2 linked regions of the Homo sapiens genome follow. The protein of the gene in region 1 purifies or fractionates together with the protein of each later gene. This does not show direct contact. Each region holds a gene or a part of one and is shown on either strand. Other genes may lie near its edges.

Region 1 (2,313 bases):
TCTCTTACAGAAGAGGAGTTTTATAGTCTGATGGTAAATGTCTTCATTTTACCTTTTTAATTGAAATGTCAAGTTTCCTGTTACACTATGGAAACCAAGAAACATCAGACATCATTGCGTGTACAGACCTTTTGCATGGGTGAGTGGATGAAATGGAGAACAGAGTGAGTGCTGTGAACGGTGTGAAATAGAAGCCAACTTCTAGTATGCTGTCTTCATCTCTGCAATAAACTAAACGTAAATAATGTAACTTTGTATAATTTAGTAGTATGTACTTGGATTGTTTCTTTTTGAAAAGTGAGGATTTGTATTTTCTCATCTATTCTTTTTGGTGTTAATTAACTTGAGGGATTTCTTTTTTAAGTTTTTAATATCAAAAATTGCTATTGTATAGTTTGCCTAAAAGGAAGTTGGAGTGAATATCATCTTTGAAGGACACTCAAATTTATAAGGTAGAAGCAATTTCCCAGATATAGGCTGAACAGAAACATTTACTTTGCCAGAAGGAGCCTTTAGGAGTATATGTGGGCTAATCAGAGGTTAATAATGTCCTCATCTCCTACTCTCCATTTAAAAAACAAACTTCATTGTAGTAAATTCAAATAGGAAAAAATGGGGGAGTAGTTAAGCAAAATCAACAGTCATCCTACTATGTTGAAAGAACCAATGTTAATATTTTGATAAATATCATTTGTCCTTTTACTTTGCTAAATATGTATATTTTTATAAAAATGGGCTCATATTGTGCATACCATTTTGTAACCTGCTTTTTTCACTTAACAATATATTGGGAACATCTTTTCCAGGTCATGCATAGTCTTCTGCATCATTTTTATTGGTTTATTATTCTGCTGTATGACTCAATCATAATTCATTTAATCTTCTATTGGATATTTTGACTATTTACATCTTTTCACAGTTATAAACAGCACTTCACTGAATCCCATGTACATCCATGACTGTTTTCTTAAATTCTTTGAATTGCTGGGTTACCAAATATGCAAAATTTTAAGGCTTTTGATACTTCGTTATGAGTGTATTTTTGAGATATTTTCCACTTGATCCAAGCAGTGTGTCACTATATAACTGATAAAAGCACTTGGTCTTTGATTATCAGATACTGTCTCTAAAATTATTTTAAAGATTAATATTTGTTCAAGTAGAGAATGAAGATAAAAAAGGAATTTGAGGCCAGGTATGGGGTGTCTCATGCCTATAATTCCAGCACTTTGGGAGGCCAAGGCAGGCAGATCACTTTGAGGTCAGGAGTTTGAGACCAGCCTGGCCAACATGGAGAACCCCCCGTCTCTACAAAAAATACAAAATTAGCAGGGTGTGGTGGTGCACACCTGTAGTCCCTTACTCCCTGGTGGCTGAGGCATTATCCCTTGAACCTGGGAGGCAGAGCCTAAAGTGAGCCGAGATCGCGCCACTGCACTCCAGCCTGGGTGACACAGCAAGACTCTTGTCTCAAACAAACAGGAATTTGAGTAAATTTTAAATTAGTATATACTACAACAAATTTCCAAACTTCATAATTTGCTAGTAGTGCTAACTAAAATTTTACACCAGGTAAAATCAGGTCACCTTTTTTATGTATTGACTTCATTGTTGGACTTCATACTCTGATGGGAAAGAAAATGGACATTCTGAATGTGTCAGGTGCATAATATCCTAATTTATGCTTGTCAGAGCTGGGGTCTCTGTCTTCCTTGGCCCATGTTGCATTTAACTGAATGTCATGTTTTCTCCTCTGGAACTTCTTATGTATGCAAGCTCCCATGTTAACCTATCATAAAAATGTTTTTTATAATTTTGTAAACATTGCTTTCTTGAGTATCTAAGAGAGAAATGGGTTTCCGTGAGTGAGTTCCAGGTAGTAGAAGGGGACTTAGGTAGCTTCTATCTTAGATAGCTTCTATCTATCCCCTCACTACCTCACTCTAACGGAGATGCTTTAAAATCCTCTTGAGTCCAATGAGGATTGTTTTTTAAATGCTGCCTTCCAAATGTCACATACTTAGATATGACAGTGTTTGAAGCTATTTGTATTTTTTTTCCCCTCCTACACTGTATTATGTGTGCAGTGTTTTCCTTTCTTCAAAAACATGCCTTATTGCCTGTTTTCTGGGTTGTCTTAGTGAGTTAAAGGAGTACCAATTAACTTTAATAATTCTAATTGAATATAGTTATGAGGGCCCAATTAAAAGGACTTCTACAGCAGTAGAAATTAGGCATGAAAAGTGGAAAGAATAGTTTCTCCCATTTGCTAAGAATGAAATCTTGCAATGCAAGATTTTTAAAAAATATTTT
Region 2 (3,154 bases), about 38 Mb from region 1:
CTCACCCGCCCACTCTTGCTTATCAGATCAACAAACTATTAGTAGGTTAAGAAAAAAGAAAACAGTAATTAAAAGTTGCATTGTTAAGCTGTGTCCCCTGTGTTTACAGCAGTTTTTCACTAAACCTGGGACTGTGAAGGGATTACAAAGAAGGTGATTAATATAGTCCTTTTTAAGGTTATGTGATTTCTCCCCACCCCACCCCCCCCTCCCCCACCCCACCCCACCCCACCCCAGATGAAAGTGGAAAGACCATGGCAATACAGAATAAGTGGTCACTGCAGTGTCTTCTCCCTTCAAAAGATCCAACTGCTGCTGAGGTAGAAATCGAACGTTGGCGCCCCCTAGTCCTCTTCGGCAGACTCTTGTGAGGATGTCTCTTCAGTTTCCTCCTGGAACACACAAAGGGCACAGCCATGACGCTCAATCGTTATACTGTGTGGGCTGCTCTTGCCAACAGTGCAGAGGTAACCTGTTTCCACAGCACATTATGCTTGCCTCAAAAGAGGATGACGATGACTGGCGAGCCCTCATTCCCAGGGCTTCTTAAACCGTAATTGAGGAATCAAGGTGTTGTTTTTTCCCAGAGCGGTCATTAGCCACTGTTGACTTAAGGCTTGACATCATGGCGGCTGGTCAGCAAATTCAATTGTTTGCTGTCCAGAGAATGTCAGGGCAATGCACGCTTACTCACCAATTAGAAAAAAAGTAGGAATGGATAAATTTTTCCCGACAGCATGCCATTCATCAGTTTTAAAAACCGGCACACAAGAAAAATAGAGTTAGGGGGATCCTTTCTTAAGGTATAAATGAACCCACCCTCCAGATACTGGTAATAATAGCTGGTATTTTTAGAGTGCTTACCAGATGCTTAGGCACCTTCTGTTAATATTCCTGTTTTACATCTGAGAAAACCAAGGCACAGACAAGTAATGTGCCCAAAATTACAGGGTGTGTGGGACCAGGATTTGGGTCGGGTTGGTACTGGTGCCAACACCTGTGTGTGACCCCTACACCACTGTGCAGAGGCAGTGTGAGAGCAGGGGCAGAGCTGACAACGAGCCTTCCCAAATCCATTTCCTCCCCCTTGTATTTATTAAAGCACATTTTGAGACAGTGACCCAAGTTCGGCGTTAACTGCTCAATCTCAATACTAATCCGCATCGACCAAACATTTGATGGTGGGCTAGCCAAGCAGAGAAAATCTAATATATATGTTTTTGCAAGGCCCCCTCTTCATATAAATCTAACTCCTCCTTCCCTTTTCCTTTTTCTGATTCCTTATGGCTCTGGAATTTGTTGGGGTTTCTGCGAGCCGGCTTGAGCCGCAAAGTTCTCTTTCCTTTTGCTTATTTAACAAATGTGCAGTACCTTTCAGGACATGGGTGGTAAAGCGGAGACAATAAACATTTCCGATAAAAGCGTCGTTAGTGAGAGGATGATTTTTATCAAATGCTGCACATTGTCTCATAAGACGGCATGTGAAAAAGATCTGGGGGAAGAGGTAAACATTTACTCCTGCAGCAGACCGAGCCCCTTTAAGAATGGCCAGCTTAAAACAGCTTATAACAGTCTTCATACTTTAATAGATTTGATTTTCCACATGGCTTCATTTTGTCTGGGTGGCTAACCGACACAATTTATACCTCTCTTCCTTTCCCAGGTCACTACAGTACACCATTCAGTAAAGCATGCCTTAAAGCTTGTCTGCATTATATGACCAAACTTCCATTCATTAGTGTTTGAAACACTTCAGCTGTGAAGGGGCTCCTAAATGCTACCATGTGTGATGCTTTTGCGTAAAAGCAGCAAATGGGAGAAAAAAACCCCACAAGAATGGGCACTCACACATTCACATGAATGCACACACACACACATACACACACACACACACACACTCTATCCTGGGCTTTAATCACAGGCCACTGCATACTTCAAACCCTTTGCAAAAGGTTTCAAATATTCTCTTTCCCCCCGAAGACTGAGCGAGCTGTAAATCCTGGGAATAAACACACATACAAATGAATGGATTACAGCTTGAAAAATATAACCACGGCAGCATCAAGTCATGAGATTTCACACCGGTTTTGTTTAGTCTGCTTTGGGTTTTGTGGGAAAAGTGGAACGTATGAGGCTACCTCCCCTTTAACTCCCAACCCCCAAACTGTGGGCTTCACATATTTAAGCAGCAGGTTTATACCTCTTGACTAGGCAACAGGCCATGACCCTGAGATTCTCTGTGGAGCCCTGGCCACAAAGGAGGATGTAGCATGATCAAAGCCATGGGCAGACGAAAGAGAGACGAGCCAAAGATCAGCTGCCCTGTGACCCTGTCCTTTCACTTAATATTTAAATTCCAGAAAGTCACTAAGCTGTTAGGCAGATACACACCTCGTTTGTCCCCAGATGATTCACTTCTCATTCTGACATGAGGTGTGGACTTAGGTGACTACTCTGAAACAGACCACGGCATAAAAGCCAGCAAGTATATTTTATTCCTTCTTACGGTTAAAAAATTGATAGAACTCAGTCAAGCTGGCAAACCTCCTGGATTGTGCTGTAATTATTCAATTTCTAACTGTTTGATTTTTCTATACTATCCGGAAACCAAGGTACTTTCAAATCCGGAAGGAAACAGAATTTTCAGGCCATGAACTTAACAAAGACCTTGTACTAGATGGAATGTGATCAGCTTTTCAAAACATTCCCAGAAACTTTGCTTGATGTGAGCTGCTGAAACTCCTGAATTCCAACCCTTTAGACACAATTCAGATGAAAATGGTGGTAGGTCATATTGTTTCCTTAACTGTCCTTAAGACAATGTGGATAAGACAATGTGGATAGTTGTTTTATTAATGTATCTTTCTGCTGACCTTAGAATTCTACTAGTAACTATCAGTTAGTACTGGGAACATGACTAGGATGTCAGAGGGTGGAAGTCTCACTTCATTAAAGGTTTGGAGGCAATGTGGCTCTCACATGCTCAGAATGATGGTTTTCTCAAATGTCTAGTTAGTGGAGAGCTCTCTCTTCTTGGCATAGCCCTGGCTGGCCACCCTTCAAAGGAAGGAATGGTTCCCAAAGGGTTGATGTGGTGGGGCAGGTGGCTTTTCCCACCTCTGCAAACCTCAGCTCTCACCTTCCCAGTGACTTG

The links.
Region 2: the proteins of NFYB (region 1) and HMGA2 fractionate together in Homo sapiens (co-fractionation; one large-scale study listed by BioGRID). This does not show direct contact.

Annotation. Positions count from the first base shown.
Region 1 is NC_000012.12:104,116,586-104,118,898, reverse strand, and holds the end of NFYB (nuclear transcription factor Y subunit beta), read left to right. Parts: 3' UTR 1-1,813; downstream 1,814-2,313. UniProt on the Homo sapiens protein: Component of the sequence-specific heterotrimeric transcription factor (NF-Y) which specifically recognizes a 5'-CCAAT-3' box motif found in the promoters of its target genes.
Region 2 is NC_000012.12:65,960,483-65,963,636, reverse strand, and holds part of HMGA2 (high mobility group protein HMGI-C), read right to left. Parts: intron 393-3,154; coding exon 345-392; 3' UTR 1-344.